Linked DNA regions of Homo sapiens: region 1 is linked to region 2. The links come from fine-mapping of genetic effects on gene expression. Tissue or cell type: whole blood. Region 2 holds a variant in brackets; the other region holds the start of a gene. All regions are shown on one strand. Distances are between the middles of the regions.

Evidence for each region. PIP is the estimated chance that this variant, and not a neighbour inherited with it, causes the effect.
Region 1: it holds the start of TC2N, and the variant in region 2 is fine-mapped to the expression of TC2N in whole blood (INTERVAL, PIP 0.96).

Annotation. Positions count from the first base shown.
Region 1 is chr14:91,863,838-91,871,837 of GRCh38, forward strand. TC2N (tandem C2 domains, nuclear) reads right to left here and starts at 3,699. Exons shown (of 12, transcript NM_001128596.3): 1 at 3,425-3,699. It overlaps FBLN5 (fibulin 5), which reads right to left. Exons shown (of 11, transcript NM_006329.4): 11 at 5,574-6,548. The coding sequence ends at 6,387. RefSeq lists an enhancer at 3,865-3,914.
Region 2 is chr14:91,816,797-91,827,420 of GRCh38, forward strand. The region is part of intron 1 of TC2N (tandem C2 domains, nuclear); the gene reads right to left. Among named protein-coding and RNA genes, the nearest start is that of TC2N, 45 kb to the right of the region's middle. The variant A/T (reference allele first, on the strand shown) is at 6,307.

The DNA.
Region 1 (8,000 bases), 46 kb after region 2:
AAAAAAAAAAAGCCTGACATGTTGGCACGTAGCTGTAGTCCCAGCTCCTCGAAAGGCTGAGATGGGAGGATCACAGGACAGGAGGTCGAGGCTGCAGTAAGCTATGATTACACCACTACACTCCAACCTGGGCAACAGAGCCAGACCCTGGCAAAAAAAAAGAAAAAAACCCAGAATAAAGAACAGAGGTCAGAATTCAGTCCTCAGAATTCAGTCCTCAGTTCTCCCTTACCTGAGGTCTGCATGCCAGGGGATCCATTTGGTGGGGGTCTGGGTTTCTGAAAAACAACTCAGGGATATATGTTAAGATGTTACCTTTAGTCTCTGGAGGGAACCAAACATCTCGCAACTCTAACTTCCCTGGCTATTGTTTTAAGCTACTATTACCTTCTTGTTTACCAAGTTGCTCCTTACTTCTCAGGGCTAGCTGGGTGCCTGGAATTTCCCTTGCAGGAACTCAAGATTTCGCTTTATTTCCATGCTTGTAGGGGAGTAGGGGGAAGGAGGCCCCTAAAAGGGGTCCCTGCTTCATCTCAATGTTGGCTTTTTTGGTAAGTTTTCAGATCAGGGGATGTAGAACGTTCACAAATAAAACAATCCACACTCGCTTTAGGGATAAATTATGAATGGTTCATACGTTAAAACTCCAAAGATGCCAAAGCACCTACCCTATTTTAAAGCATAGTAGCTATCGTGATACAAGCCAGTTTTGCAATGTCAAATTCATTCTGAGTAGAAGGTTGGAAACGAAGACTTAGAAAAAAGGAACAGGTTGAAACCAAAACAATCCTACCCAAACGAAAACTTCTTTTAAACAGAATCAAGTGATCCAATGACTCTGTGGCCTTAAATCAATGTTAATTAATTTCTCAAATCCTAATAAACAGGTATCATAATGGCACTGTATTTGTATGTGTGTACAATTTACCCTGCCTTCATCTTTTTTTTTTTTTTTTTTTTTTGAGACAGACTCTCGCTCTGTTGCCCAGGCTGAAATGCAATGGTGCAATCTCAGCTCACTGCAACCTCTGCCTCCTGGGTTCAAGCAATTCTCCTGCCTCAGTCTCTGAGTAGCTGGGATTATAGGTGTGTGCCACCACTCCCACCTAATTTTTGTATTTTTAGTAGAGACGGGTTTCACCATGTCGACCAGGCTGGTCTTGAACTCCTGGCCTCAAGTGATCTGCCCACTTCGGCCTCCCAGATTACAGGCATGAGCCCCTGTGCCCAGCCCCCTGCCTTCATCTTTACATTATTGCTCAAGAATATCCCAAATTCCTGAAAAAGTCACTGCCTGTCAACATGCAGTTCCCCTCTGAAAGAACACCAAAATGGCAATTCAGTAGATCACTCCTGTGTTGACACCTATTTTCTCACTTTAATGATTTATTTCTCTGATGGCTGCTGGCTAAGATTCATTATTAAGAACCATTAGTAAGTCAAACATTCTAACTGGAGGCTTTCATCCCCGCAAAAGCTACCAAAGTGATAAATTTTGCCTCTGTGCACTCCTTTGTCTTGGAGCCTCTTGGTTTTTTTTTTTTTTTTTTTTTAAAAAAACATCTTTTAGCTATGTTCAGGGATTCCAACAAAGATATCAGCCATTTGTTAAGTAACAGGACTAAGAAATTTGAAAACAAAAATATCAGCACAAGGAACAATCTGTATATTTGTTTGTAGTTTATAAGCATTGGCCAATTCCAAAATAATGAAGAGATTTGCTAAGTGCTCACGTTTTTTTTCAGATAAAAAAATATTGCATTTAAAGTAAACACAAATTGTATCAAAAAGAAAAAGTTTATCTAGCATTTATTAGTGTTTCCTTTCAAAATACTTAATAATTCTAAGCAGAGGCAACTTATTCTAAATTTCAAACACATGTCTATAAATTTTCATAAGAATTTTTCTTGTATAAAACAGATGTCTTAATAATTTTTAAAATCTAACTAAAATAATTTTGTGGACCCTGCTACTGCACCTACCACATTATATTCCAGTTTTGTCGTGTATGCTGCATAAACCCCTGGCTAAAGGTGTTATTAAAAAGTTATTAAAGTTTTAGATTAACTTTTTATAAAGTTTTAATAACTTTTAAAGTTATTAAAAAGTTATTAAAGGTGTTATTAAAAAGGTGTTATTATAAAGTTATCGGTGGACTGTCTATCCTGTTCATGTCTCTGAATCCAGCAACCGGCTTAACCAAAGTGGATTCTTAACCAAAGTATGTGATCCTCTCAAGACAAAGACCTTTTACAAACAATATTTCATCTGGCAAGAGGGGAGTAGAGGAGAGTTCCTTTGTCAAGTCTTCTCTCTGTGGGTGACCCCGTTGGCTCAGAATGAACAACTTGGGCACATTACAGTAACCACCCAGGCCACAAAAATGCGTTGAAACCACTGAAAATGAAATAATCAGACCTACTTAAATGTTTTTACCATCTGGGCAAATAACACCCCAAGGGCCAAGACTTACCTAAGAAAGTGTCTGAAGTATGTTACCCAAGCCTGAGAGGCAACAGGTAGGTGGATTTTGTGCCAATTAGAAAGTGTTATGATTGGCAAACCACTGCAAAACTCTGAAATTGCAGTGAAATGGAAATGCTGGCTGTCATCCCCAAAGTACATTTCAAGGAATCACAAAACTTCAGAATTAGAAGCAATTATTTAGGATGAACGTTTTCACCCACATGAAAGTTGGAAGATGAGGTGGTAACACGAGAGCTTTTGCAGGCGTCCCTACTCTTAATCCTGCGCCCCTTCCACCTTGGTACCCTTCATTCTTCAGGACCTGATGGAGTGGTACAAAGCAGAGGTCACTTGACAAGCTCAGCCCAGCTCCTGGATGGGGCAAAGCTGACAAGGAATAGGCACAGGGAGCCTGGAGATCTCAGGGTCCAGGAAACAGCCTGCCCCATTAGAACTGCACAGCAGAGCACAGCACTGGGATCAGAGAGCAGGCTCATCCCCAGTCTTGTACAAAAAATAACATTTGATGATTCCCAAGGGGTAGGTAAAGCAAGTAGCATTTGGGGTTCCAGCAGCCTCTAGAACTGTTTCCCAAATGTTTGGAGCTTGACTTTGCAGTATACACTTTGCCCTGGACTGTTTTTCTCTTAATTTTTAGGCCCAAGTGTATTTTAAGGTAAATGGATCCCACATGCCTCTGGTGCATTTACACTGAACCCATCAGACCACATTTTGAAAGCGCAATTTGAGGTCCAAGAAGCCCTTGGAGGCTGCTTTTATGAGCCTGAGTTTCTTTTCTTAGAAGCAGGAAGCCACATTTTGACATGAACAAATAAAACACAAACCTTAAAGACTCGGATCTGGTTCCAAATGTGGCACCTCTGAAACCAGTGGGTCCTCAAATCATCAAGACAGAAAGCTTCCCAGTTTTCTTTTTGAGAAGTTCATGGAGACTTACCCCTGTGTTCTGTTGAGCCCAGAGGCAGTGGTTCGGAGGCGCTCGGTGCAAAGCTCACGTAAACCTTCAGCATTTCTGATTCCATCCTTCTTCCCAGCCCCTGAGTCTCCCTACACAGCAGGGACCCAGGCTCACTGCTGCCTTCTGGCCTTTGCTTTTCGGAGCCGAGCTGAGTGAGTCCCAAGGGAATCACCCTCTGTTTTATAAGCTTTGAAACCAGAGCATCCTGAGCCATTTGGTGCTGATGTGATTGCTAACACCACTTGACCCTGACTGAAGAACCACAACTAGGCATGGTTTAGATGTGCTTAGTTAGAGAAAAAAATAACCACAGCCAACAGCAAAGTGAGGTGTGTGGTGTGGGTGTGAGAAATGCTCTTGGGGTGAGGAGGGAGGACTTGCAGCTTCTTGGATGCTACAGGGCGTGGAACATGCTGTTTCCTTCCACTGAAGGCCTAAGATACTACTAAGTGGAACAGGAGAATTCCCTGGCCCCCTCACAGGATGTGCAACAGGGGTGTGGCTCTCTCTTCAGCCACCCCAAGCTAAAACCCCTTATGGGAAGGGGAGCACGCAGACAGGCAGGTGCAGGAACCAGGGTGAGCACTTTTGGGCCCCAGCCCCATGACAGCATCCCGGGGTCGGTGTCTGTGACTTCCAAAGCCCGAGTAGGCACTGAAACAGTGCAGTCTTTCAGCCTTGCCATCCGTGGACAGCTTAAGCGTTAACCAGCTTAGTGGACCCTCTCCCTTTTTGCCAGGGCAGAGGGCCAGTGTGACAGTTTCCTGTATCCCGAGCTCTTGTCCAGCATCCCGGAGGGATCAGGTCACACATGGATTTGCAGGATGAATGCAGGGGTTTTATTGAGTGGTGGAGGTGGCTCTAAGTAGGATGGATGGGGAGCTGGACAGGGGATGGAGTGGGAAGATGATCTTCCCCTGGAGTTTGGCCATCCAGTGGCCAGTTTTCAGATCGTCTCCAGTCGAATTCCTCCCAATGTTCCTTCTCTTCTCTCCTTCTTTGCCGTGCTTTTCTGCCATTCATGTCTGCTCATCTTCTTGTCTCCCCGTCTGCTTCTGGAGCCTGGAGCCTGGGGTTCAGGGTTTATATGGGTACAGGATAGGGGACATGGCAGGCCAAAAGGCAACTTTTTAGGGATGAAAACAGGAATGGCTGTCCTCATTTAGGGCCATGGGTACCCAGGCTTGAGGGTGGGGCCTTTGCCAGGGAACCACCCTCTTCTACCCAGTATTTCCCTGTCTCCTGTCCATATCACAAGGATCTGTGGAATGCCTACTAAGACTAGGGGTCCAGGACACAACTCCTGATAGGCACTGTGGGGGTCCTTAATGAATACCTCACCAACAGGTAGGATGGGAGCACCCTCAGATGGATCTGTAGACTCCACCTCAGCTATCAGGGAGTGCACTTTTTTCCTGAAGCCTTGGGTTGATTCCTGGGATGGCACATAAAGACAGCCATCCCAACCTGTTCTCCTGTGACTTGCAATGTTGACTCTCTTGGCCCCTGCACAGGGTTCTAAGACTTGAAGGATGTCCAGAGGCCCTGACCAGGAAAAGAATAATGTATCCTACAATGAGCAGAAAAGACATTGAGGGCAAGGCAGCTAGGGCTCCAGCCCCATCTGTCCACCTCTCTTTCTAGGGTTTATAACAATACATTCTCAACTCTGGCTACATAGTCAAGTTTTCAAAAATCCTGATGGCCGGGCCCTACCTAAGCCCAATGACATCAGAGTGTCTGGGGGCATGTCCCGGGGAATCAATCTTTCCTCCAAAGTTCTACTGGTTATCCGTCTATGCAGCCAGGGTTGAAGGCCACTGGTTTAAAGTAACTTGAATACATTCCTGTTCTGCAGGAGCACCGGAAATAATCTACGTAAGAGAAGGATTGTTGGTTGTTTTCTAATCAGATGAAACAGGACTCAGGGATGATGCCTCCCCCTAACTTCCCCACGACCCCTATTTCTCTGCCCCACCGCCCCCCTCCCATCAATTTGCCAGAGTCACAGATAATGCCCTAGCTCTCTGGAGAGCTTTCTAAGCCAGCGCACAATAAACAGGTTTAAACAGAACTAGAACCCCAAAGGCTGACTCGTCTATGATGTCAAAATGAACCAAACACAAGCTCTCTTCAAATATTTAATCAGTTTGGAGACCTCTGCATTCCAATCCAATTGGGTAAAAATTCTAAAGAAAGCAAGATTAAGGGGTCCTCAAAGAAAACACTGGGCTAAAATGGAGAGGAGACTGGGTTTGGGAAGACAGAACATAGCATGTGTCTGAAGGCCTTTCGAAGGAATTCTACGACATATTTTTTAAAAATACTCAAAATGAACAAGACAGAATTAAACCGTTATACAAATTTAAGGACAACTGAAACTTCTTTTATGGTTGAAAATACCAGGCATGGTTTTGAAACACATTCTCTAAAAACCCTTCGATCCTGCTGTGGTTTGTTTACATAGCCTTCTCTGTGTACGCAAAAAGCAAACTAGCTACTCCCAGGGTTCCCCGCCAGCTCCCGGGTCTTTGCAAAGCAGTAACACAGTGAGAGAAGGAGTGGAAGAGGTGAAGAAGTGACAGCAAGCTGTTCACAGTCTTTGAACATAGACTCAGACCCCCGCAAACCTAATCTATTTTCTTTGAAAATAGTGGAAATAAACTGAAGGCCTTGAAAATTCACCAACAATCTTCTATCAGGGGAGCAATGATAATACTTTTTGATAACTGTGTCATAGGAACTGGGGGTGGCAAGTCCTGCAGGGTGACAGGTCTGCAATAGTACAGGTGAGAGTCAGGAAGTCGGGGCTGACTCTTCGGGGAAACGTTCAGCAGGAAATGCCTAACGTCTGTGTCGCTCTCATTCTCTCTGTTATTTCCTCTCTTCTCCTGTCCCTTGGTGCCAATGAGAGGCAGCGTCGGAGGCTCCAGCCCGAGGCTCAGAATGGGTACTGCGACACATATATCCGCAGTCGGATCACGGAGCTGCCTCTGAAGTTGATGACAGTGTTGACAGTGATCATTTCCAAGTCCAGCTGGATTTCCCGGGGCCCTTTGATGGGGCGTGTCATCACCAGGGTGGCACTGATGGGGCCCGTTTGCTATGGACAGAACCGGGGAACACCAGTGAGAAAAGGCCTGCATGGTGGCCCTGCAGCCCCACCTGGGCGCTCCCTTGCCTCCGTCAGTCAAACTGGCACCCCCTCGGTGCCTCAACTGTGCCATGCTCTTTCCCTGGCTTTGCCCACTCTCCACCTGGTTCTTTTCTGCAAACCCTTCAGGTCTCATCTGAAAGGTCACTTCCTAAGAGGAGCCTTCTCTGGTTCCCCAATCTAAGTCAGGTCCCCCTGCGACCTCTGACGCTGCAGCCTTTACTTTGTACAGGATGGAAAGCATTTATGACCATGTATGATTGTCCATACTGTCTACCTGATCCGTGTCTGATATCTAGGCTCCCACTAGGCTATGAGTTCTGTAAGAACAGGTACTGGGGTCAGGCTTTTCACCACTGAGTCCCCCTAGAAGCCAGCATGGTGCCTTGAACACAGAAGGTGTTCAGAAAACATATATTGAATGATGAACGAATCATTGATTGAAACTTCTGCATGGCTTAGGGCTGTCACTTCACCCCTCTGGGGCTCATCTCTCAAATGAGGGTTTGGCATTGAGTACATACACATGGACACAAAGAAGGGAAAAACAGGCACCAGGGCCTGCTTCAGGGTGGGAGGCAGGAGGAGGGAGGGGATTGAAAAACTACCTACTGGGTACTATGCTTATTACCTGGGTGATGACATCATATATACACCAAACTCCTACGACACAGTAATTTATCTATACAACCAACATGCACATGTACTCTTGAAAGTGGAATAAAAGTTTTAAAAAACGTTTTTGAGGAAAAATAAAATGAGGGTTTGGACCAGATCAGTAATTTAAAAAAAAAAAAAAAAAGGCATCAAAGGCTACTGGAACTTTTTTTGTTAAACTAACAATTCCAGGGGCCCATTCCAAGATTTTCTATGTCAGTATATTTTTAGGTGATGCCTGGGAAAGGTGGAATTTAAGAACCCCCCTCTAGGCACCCTAGAGTCATCTCCAGCTTCACCATTCTGTAACCTGATCACTGTGGTCCTAATAATTTCGCGTGAACTCTCTCCTCCACTGAGTCTTTTTCTAAAACTTTCAAGGAGGAAGGCAGAGAGGAATGACATCAACTGAGCACCCATCATGTGTGAGGCACTCTTCTAACCATGTTTATGTACATCTGCTTATTTAATCCTCATAAAATGGCCAGGCACCATGGCTCACAACTGTAATCCCAGCATTTGGGAGGCCGAGGTGGGCGGATCACTTGAGGCCAGGAGTTGGAGACCAGCCTGGCTGATATGGTGAAACCCCATCTCTACTAAAACTAGAAAAATTAGCAGGGCATGTTGGCAGGTGCCTGTAATCCCAGCTACTTGGGAGGCTGAGGCACAAGAATTGCTTGAACCTGGGGGGCAGAGGTTGCAGTGAATAGAGATCGCACCACTATACTCCACCCTGGACAA
Region 2 (10,624 bases):
GATGCTCCCTTTAGTACACATTAAATTTCCATATGCAATTGGGTTTATTGTGTATTTTCTATTCTCTTCAATTGTTCTGTCTATTCCTGTACCAATGGTATATCATTTTAATCTTAAATTCTTATATCATGTTATAACATGTAGCAAGACAAGTCATCTTTACCCCTCTTCACTTTCTGCATTTTCTTAGCTATTCTTGCTTGTCTGTTCTCGAAAATGAACTTTATAATCTGTCTAGCCCTAGGAGGAAAAATCTGATGGTACTTTCATCAGGATCATATTAAACTTCTAAATTATTTTTTTAAAACTGACATCTCTAAGAATATTGAGTCTTCCTACACAGAACATAGTATATCTTTATATTTGTTCAAGTTTATGCTTATACCTTTAGGAGTTTTTAGAGTTCTCATAAAAATTCTGAAGATTTCTCATTAAGTGTATGCCTGTATAATTTGCTTGGCTATCATAAATGGTATCTTCTCTTCCATTACATCTTGTGACTATTTCCATTTTTAAAATGTATGCGTTTTCAAAGGCCCTGTTCAGCCCCAGCATATCAGAGTAAAATACTCCGTAACCACCCAAATCAAACGAATAGTCTCTCATCTCTAAATGTCTAGTGTCTTTAAAAAAAAAAAGTTTAACATTTTTCTTAACATTTTATGAGATCTTGTTCTGTCTCCCCTGTTAGAACATAAACTGCTCAAAAACAATATTGTACTCACTTTCTGCTTAGCACTCAGCACACTACATGATGCTGGGAATATAATTGGAACTCAGCAAATACCTAGTTGATAGATAAGGAAACAAAGTACAACTATCTCCCATAAAAACTAAGAATATATTCATCAAACCACATCTCTGACCCCAATCAGTTTGCAAATATTTAACATTAACCATGACAGGAATGTGGTAGAATTGGTTAAAAATGACTGCTACTTCAGGGGGAAAAGTCCTCAACATTGATGGCCTTGAGTCATCCAAAATGAGTTGGGGAAGATGGAGGAAGGTAGTAGAAAGAGAGAAAAGTTTATATGAATGAAATGTGAAATCTAATTAAAATGAACACCCAGTAATACACTACAGGAAAGACAGTTAAAAAACACATGGATATTTTACTTTTGTACAAAATAGAGTAACAGAGACAGATTTATCCTACCACCTGAAAAGCAAATAAAATATATGGAACAGCAATTTTCAAGACACTGGCTATCAGACAGCAAAGAACTGAGAAATAGGAACTAAATGAGGTAAGCCTTCCACCTTACTCCCTTGAGGGAGTTTCCAGGCCATGGGAAATTACCCAAGCAAAGCCGAGAAGATTTTCTGAAATGAAGAGACAAAGCTGAAAGTATGTGGAGAATAAGGCAGCGAGAGTTTGCATAACAGACTACTGTAGAATAAAGAGGTACATACAGAGAACAATGGAGATCAGCAGAGGGTCCCACTCAAGTATTCAACAGAGTACTGATCAGCACACACACAAAAAAAGGAAGCTACACAAGACTGCGGGAAAAAAACACCAGAAAAATTTACAAAAACTATACATAACTGGTATTCACCAAGGTCAGGAGTGATGCTTGTCCCCACAAATCAGACTGGAAAAGGGATCAAATTGTTTACACAAAACTTAACTGTGTCCCAAAGCAAATTTACAGAAATCCAAAAATATCCAGCATTCAAGGTAAAACTCACAATGTCTGGTATTCAATTAAAAAAAGTACCAGGTATACAAGGAAGCAAAAAAATATATAGAACCCATAATGAAGAGGAAAAAAAAATCAATCAATTAGAAACAACCTAAAATTGAGACAAGGCAGTTGAGGACACTAAAATAGTTATAGCTGGACTCAATATGTTCAAAAGGTTAAGTAGAGATATGGACGATATTAAAAAGACCCAAATCCAATTTCTAGAGATGAAAACTATAATGTCTGAGATGGAAAATATACTGGATGGGATTAATACCAGATTGGATATTGCAAAAGAAAATATTAATGAACTTGAAGGCATAGTAAGATAAACTAACTAAAATGAGACACAGAGAAAAGACTAACATCAAAATGATAAAAAGCATCTGTGACTCATGGGACAATTTCAAGTGACCCAAAATACATGTATTTGGAGTCCACAAAGAAGACTGGGGATAGGGGGGAGGGCATATTTGAAGAAATAATGGCCAAAATTTTCCAAACTTGATAACTACAAACCACAGATCTAAGAACCTCCGCCAACACTAAGGTCAGGAAACATGAAGAAAACTACACCAATGCACACCACGCCATAATAACATCATTCAAAAACAGTGATGGGAAAATCTTAAAAGCACCCAGAGAAAAAAGACATGTTATGTACATCAAAGCAAAGATTAAGAATAGCAGCATATAGTTGAGCATGGTGGTGTGTGCTTGTAATCCCAGCTACTCGGGAGGCTGAGGCATAAGAATCACTTGAATCTGGGAGGCAGAGGCTGCAATAAGCTGAGATCATGCCACTGCACTCCAGCCTGGGTGACACAGAGAGACTCTGTCTCAAAAAATTAATTAATTAATTAAAAAGGATAGTAGCATAGCTCTCAATGGAAACAAAACAAAAACAGTAGAGCAAGATCTTTAATGTACTGAAAGAAAAAAACCCATCAACCTAGAATTTGACACTCAGAGAAAATCTTTCAAAAATGTAGGTGACATAAAGACTTCTTCAGACATACAAAAGTTGAAAGAACATATTACCAACAGAGCTACACCACAAGAAGTGTTAAATGATGTCCTTCAGGCCAAAGGATAATATCTGATAGAAATATGAATCTACACAAAGGAATAAAGTGCACCATAAGTATAAATACATGATTTATTATTATTGGGATTTCTTTACAAGTTTATTAAAGCTTAGACAAAAAAATTATACTGAGACAAAAGGTTTGTAACATATGTAAAACTAAAATGTATTACATCAATAGCACAAAGGCCGGGGGAGAAATAAAAGTAAAAATGTAAATAATTATAGTATATGTGATGTGGTATCATATCATTTGAGGACTGACTGTAGAAAGTTAAAGATATATACTATAAACCCTAACACAACCACTAAAATAAGAAAACAGAGTTACAGCTTATAAGCCAACAAAGGAGATAAAATGGAATAATTTTAAAATACTCAATTAATAAAAGAAAGCAGAAAAAGAAAGGGGGAACAAAGAACAGATAGGATGAGTAGAAAACAAATAGCAAGATGATAGATTTGAACTTAATTATATCAAGAATCACAAGTGTGAATACTTTAAAATATGCCAATTAAAAGGCAGAAATTGCCAGACTGGATAAAGAAGTATGATACAAGTATATGCTGCCTACAAGAAACATTTTAAATACAAATAAGTTAAAAATAAAAGGATGGATACCCCTTGAGAACATACACCCAAAATCCTCAATGAAATACTGGCAAGCCAAATCCAGAAACGTATAAAAGATTTATGTATCATAACCAAGCAAGATTTATCCCAGGATTGCAAGATTAGTTTAACATCTGATAATCAATTCATGTAATGCATCATATTAACAGAATAAAGGACAAAAACTATAGGATAATCTCAATAGATACAAAAATTTGACAAAATCCAATATTCGTGATAAAAATACTGAGAATAGAAGAGAATCTTTCAACATAATAATAAACAGCATCTATGAAAAAATCTATAGTTAACATCACAGGAACTGGTGAAAGATTGAAAGTCTCCCTCTAAAGCCAGGAAAAAAAAAAAAGATTTCTACTCTCTCTACCTTTATTCAACACTATATTTGAGATTCTAGCTAAGCCAATTAGGCTAAAAATATTTTGTCAAAGGCATTCATCTTGGAAATCAAGAAGTAAAACACTCTTCATTCACAGACAACAAGATCTTGTAAATAAAAAAAAAAAATCTAAGAAATTCACTAACAAACTTACCAGAAGTTCACTAAGGTTGCAAGATATAAGAGAAATATACAAAAGTTAATTGCATTTCTATATACTAACCATGAACACTCCAAAAATGAAATAGAAAACAATTCCATTCATAATAACATTTTTAAAAACTTAAAATACAAATACTTTAAGAAATGAAGTACAAGACTTATACACTGCAAACCACAAGACATTACTGAAAGATATTAAAGAAGAGCTCAATACTTGTGAAGATATCCCATGTTCATGGATTGGAAGATGTAATATCATTAAAATGGTAATATTATTAATATTGCTAAGGTGGCAATACTCCCCAAATTGATCTACAGATTCAACACAATCTCTACCAAAATCCCTTCCAGCTTTTTTACAGAAATTGACAAGCTGATCCTAAAACTCATATGGGAACGTAAAGGGTGCAGAATAGCCAAAACAATCTTGGGGAAAAAAAAAGAACAAAGTGGAAAGACTAACTTCAAAATTTACTACAAAACTAGTCATCAGGACAATATAATATTAGTATAAGGACAGATAAATAAATCAATAGAATTAAATTCAGAGCCCAGAAATACACCCTTACATTTATAGTCAATTGATGTTTAACAAAGGTGCCAAGAAATTTTAAAGGGAAAGAAATAGTGTTTTCAACAAATGGTGCTAGGACACTGAATATCAATATTTATATCCACATTATATCCACATGCCCTTCCCACAAAAAAAAAAATTGGATCCCTGCCTCCCACCATATACAAAAACTAACTCAAAACTGATTATGCACCTATATGTAAGAGTTAAAACTTCAAAACTCTTAGAAGAAAACATAGGAGTAAATCTTTGTAAACTTGGGTTAGGCAGTAATTTCTTAGACACAACACCAAAAGCACACATGATCAAAGAAAAATTTGATGTACTAGATTTAATTGAAATTAAAAACTTTGTGCTTTAAAAGACACCATTAACAAAGTGAAAAGACCACTCGGAGACTGAGAGAAGATATTTGCATATCACACATCCAATAAAATATGGATTATATCCAGCATATATAAAAAACTATTACAACTTAATAATAAAAAGAAAAATAACCCAATTAAAAAATAGGCAAAAGATTTGAAAAGACACTTCTCCAAAAAAATCTACAAGTGGCCAAAAAGCACATGAAAACATGCTCAACACAGTTAGTGATTAGGAAAATGCAAATTAAAACTATAAAAAGACAACAATATACATTGATTAAAAAGGATAAAATTACAAAGATTGACCATTCCAAATGTTTATGATATGTGACAAGTAGTATTCTCCTATTCTACTGGTGGGACTGTAAAATGGCATGACCACTTTAGAAAACAGTTTGACAAGTTTCTAAAGTTGAACATATACCTGCTACATGATCCAGACATGCCATTACTACATATTTACTTAAGAAAAAAGCAATCACATGTTTACACAAAGAGTTGTACACTGGTGTTCATAGCAAATCTATTCAAAATAGCCAAAAATTGAAAACTATCAAGTATCTATCAACAGATTAATCCATTTAGAAAACAAACTGTGGCTCAATGGAACACTACTCAGAAATAAAGAAGTAAGCTGGTTAAACATGCAACAATATGGATGAATCTCAAAATAATTATGCTGGGCAAAAGAATGCCAACAAAAAGAGTATGTGCCATACAGATATGTGCCATATTCTCTTGCATTTGCTTTATTAATAACAAAGTCATATTTCAGTTCTTATTTTGTCTTTAATTTGGCTTTTCTAGCTATCTTATTAATACTGATTTGTAGCTGAACTCCACTGCATGATTCAATTTATATAAAATTGTAGAAAATGGAAATTAATCAATAGTAACAAAAAGTAGATCAGAGGCTGCCTCGGGACAGTGAGGAGTGGGGAGATGAAGCACAGAGAGGGACAGAAAGGAAGGACTTGGTGGGGCAGGAGGAAACTTTGGAGTGGGGGTAATATACTCATTATCTTTTTTTTTTTTTTTTTTGAGACAGTGTCTCGCTCTGTCGCCCAGGCTGGAGTGCAGTGGCGTGATCTCTGCTCACTGTAAGCTCTGTCTTCTGGGTTCACGCCATTCTCCTGCCTTAGCCTCCCAAGTAGCTGGGACTACAGGTGCCCACCACCACGCATGGCTAATTTTTTGTATTTTTTAGTAGAGACGGGGTTTCACCGTGTTAGCCAGGATGGTCTCGATCTCCTGACCTCGTGATCCGCCTGCTTCAGCCTCCCAAAGTGCTGGGATTACAGGCATGAGCCACCGTGCCGAGCCTATACTCATTATCTTGACTGTGGTGATGGTTTCATAGGTACATACATACATGAAAACATGAAAACATCAAATTATCGATTTCAAGTAT[A/T]TGTAACTTACTACATATCAATTAGACCTCAATAAACCTGAAAAAATAATACATAAGTAGAATTACAGAACATTAACAGAAAAAGAGGCCTCAAAAACATTAGCAGAGCCGAAGGCTTAGAAATCATTTTATCAGGGGCCAGGCATGGTGGCTCATGCCTGTAGTCCCAGCACTTTGGGAGGCCAAGGCGGGTGGATCACCTAAGGTCGGGAGTTCGAGACCAGCCTGACCAACCTGAAGAAACCCCATCTCTACTAAAAATAAAAAATTAGTTGGGCATGGTGGCACATGCCTGTAATCCCAGCTACTCAGGAGGCTGAGGCAGGAGAACCACTTGAACCCGGGAGGCGGAGGTTGCAGTGAGCCGAGATCACGCCATTGCACTCCAGACTGGGCAACAAGAGCAAAATTCCATCTCAAAAAAAAAAAAAAAGAAAAAAGAAATCATTTTATCAAAGTCCTTCTAATTTTACCCAAAGAAAATAATGAGTCAAGCAACTAGATAATGTTAGGTTTAGAACCAAACCCTAAGCTTCACAACTTTTTCTAATACACCACATTGCTTTAGGTAGGGTATGGGTAGAAGGGCAGGACCAGTCAGGTTAACAGACTATGTGCTGGCTATCTACATAGCCACATGTTTGCTTTTTTAGCAACAAGGAGAAACAAATATAAATGGTTAAAAGTATACTGCCTATGTTCCAATCCTGTAACTTTCACTTATTAGCTATATGACCTTAAATCTGTTACTTAACCTTTTTAACCTTCAACTTCTTCATCAATTAAAAAACAACAACAACAACAACAACAAAACACTTCTTAGGGCTATTGTGATGATCAACCAAAGTAATGCACATAAAGTATAAAACTAGTGGTAGGGCTGTTTTAAGAATAAATGTTTGCTGTCATCAGCGGCATCATTATTATATTTATTATCATCAGATCCCACTTACAACAGATCTGATTCATGCTAGGCACTTTACCCAATGCCAGAAATGATATGGGGACATTTAGCTAGAACATTCTAGTATGAGGACAGATTGTAAAAAGACTTAAATACTTCCATATCAATAGATAAAAGCTATAAACACCCTAGTCACTTTAACTCCTCCCTAGGCACCCCTGAGGTAAATGTCTGAAAAAGCAGGGGCCTCCATGACTCTGCTCCAATATTACAGTCAGTGCTCATGCACGACAAGTTGTTAAAATACTTTTAATATCACTTCCTTTTGAGATTCCCAAAGGGCTTATTTGCCTCTGCTGGTCTGACATAGTCTAGGAACAGCCTGTCTATGGTATTCTCACAAATAAAGGACAGTACATCATCACGACTTTCCCCTGCAAACCTGCTTTTCCTCTGGTATTTCCTACTACAGTGCCACTATCCAGCTAATTAACTAAGCCAGAAATACAAGTGCCATTCTTGAGTCCTTCTGCTCCCAAAATCCACACATCCAATTCATCCATTCACTTACAAGCATTTATTGAGCATCTACTATGTACTAGGCAATTTGCTAGGCACTGAAGACAAAATAGGGAACAAGACAGACAAGCTTTTGGAGCGCTTACAACAGAGGAGGGAGATAAACAGAAAAATAAACAAACACATGATACATTCAATCCAATGAGGAAAATTAACCAGGATTCAAAAGGAATGAATGTTAACTTTGTATAATCAGAAAAGACTTCTCTGAGGAGGTAACAATCCAGCTGGAACATAAACACAAGAAAGGATCAGCTAGCAAAGTTCTTGATGGTGGAGCATTCCAGAAATTGCAAAAATCTTGAGTTGTACCCACTTTGCATTATTTTGCAAGGTACTAAGCAACAGAAAGAGTAGTTAGCAGGTGAACTGTGAAATAGGCAAGGGCTAGAATTCTGTTGAGTAGAGCCCCTTAATCCTTGTAATTTTCTTTTTCTTTTCTTTTTTTTTTTTTTTTTTTTTTTTTTGGAGATGGAGTCTCGCTCTGTCATCCAGGCTGGAGTGCAGTGGTGCGATCTTGGCTCACTGCAACCTCCGCCTCCGGATTCAAGCAATTCCCTGCCTCAGCCTCCTGAGTAGCTGGGATTACAGGCACCCGCTACCATGCCCGGCTAATTTTTGTATTTTTAGTAGAGACGGGGTTTCACCATCTTGGCCAGGTTGGTCTTGAACTCCTAACCTCGTGATCCACCCGCGTCGGCCTCCCAAAGTGCTGGGATTACAGGTGTGAGCCACCGCGCCTGGCCATCCTTGTAATTTTCACACCTTCCTTTCTATTCTCAATTTGACTATTTTGATTCAGATGTTATGATACCCCAAATTACAGAGAGCCAGCTAATAGGTTTGCCTTTCAAATTCTTTTTATCCCCCCACTGTGCTGCTAAGGTCCTTCGTCTGCTTTAAGTAATGCTATATCTCTCTATCACTTTCAGGATAAAATTTATTCTGCTAAATACAATATGTGACCCTTCTCTTGCTCATCTTCCACTACTTCCTTCTGCAAATACCAAGCTTCAAAATATAACTACCTGATGTGCTAGAAACACACCATTCTCTTTTTTACTTTTGCACCTTTGAACTACGTTAGGGTAGGAATGCTTCTTGCTGTCTCTAGTTTCTTTGAGAAAGATTTGTCTGTATTAGAAAACCTACTTGCCTGCAGATACATGCCATATCTAAATTAGCTTTATTAATAACAAAGCCCTATTTCAGTTCTCCATCTGTCTTATTCTTTTGTTTTTCTTTAATTTAGATTTCCTGGCTATCTTATTGATATTGATTTGTAGCTGAATTCCACTGTGATCAGAGAAATTGTATACAATCAATGATATTCATAGTATATCATCAATTTTAATAAATGTTCCATGTACATTTGCAACTTTGAGGTGCAATGTTCCATGTACATCACTAAATCAAATTCGTTGGTCATGTTAAAATCTTCTGTATCTTGGCAGGGCATAGTGCCTCATGCCTGTAAATCCCAGTATTTTGTGGGGGCCGAGGCAGGAGGATCATTTGAGTCCAGGAGTTCAAGACCAGCCTGTACAATATAGGGAGACCCCTATCTCTACAAAAAATTAAAAAATTAGCCAGGCATAGTAGTGCATACCTGTAGTTCCAGTTACACGGGAAGCTGAGGTGGGAGGATCACTTCAGCTCAAGAAGTGGAGGCTGTGGGAAGCCGTGATCGCATCACTGCACTACAGCCTGGGTGACAGGGTGAGACCTTGTCTGAAAAAAAAAAAAAAAGCAGGAAAAAAATATGTATCTCTATTGATTTTTTTTTCTGCTTGTTTTATATAGTACTAAAAGAGATGCATCTAAAAAGAAAACTCCAACTATGACTGTGGATATATCTATTTCTCCTTTTAGTTCTATCAGATTTGTTTCATATATTTTTATTCTAATTTATGAGGTACATATAAATTTATTAATCTCCCTTTCAATCTTTAGTAATACTTCTAGAAGCCTTAATGTTGGCTTGTCTGATATAACTAGAATTTCTTTCAGTTAATATTTGCATGTTATATCTTCTTTCCATCATTTTCTTTTCAACCTTTCTGTGTTATGCTCAAGGTGTCTTTTATAAGTAGTATGTAGTTAGATTGTGTTCTACTATCCACTCTGACAATCTTTGTATTTATTTGTATTTTAACTGTATTTAGTCCAGTCATAAAGATTTAAAACTGTTTTAACATATTGGTGATTTAAATCTCTTATCATTATGGTAACTTTTTAATTTCTAGAAATGCTTTTACCCTGAAAACAATTTTGTCTGATAGTTATAGCTATGCAGCTTTCTTTTAGAAAGCATTTGTATGGAATATCTTTTTCTGTTTACTGTTTCCATTTGTTTACCAACCTTTCTGTCTCCTCATGTTTTAGATATGTCTCTTATAAATAGCATTTAGTTAAAGTGTTTTAGTCCAGATAAACAATCTTTGTCTTTTGACTGTAATATTTATTCCACTTATATTTAAGATAACTGGCTGATATATATATGAATTTAAACCTATATTTTATCCTGGGCTTTCTATTTGTCCTACTTGTTCTCTGTTTCTTTCCTTTCATCCTTCCTTGGATTGACTAAGTGTTTATGATCTTCATTTTTTTCCCTCCAATAGCTTGGATATTGTATTACTTTCCTATTGCTGTTGCAACAAATTACCACAAATTTAATGGCTTTAAATAAACTTACTATCTTACAGTTCTGGAAGTTTGAAGTCTGAAATGGGTTTCACTGAGCTAAAATCAAGGTGTTGGCAGGGCTGCATTACTTCTGGAGGCTCTATGGGAAATTCCATTCCTTTGCCTTTTCCAGTTTCTAGAAGAAAC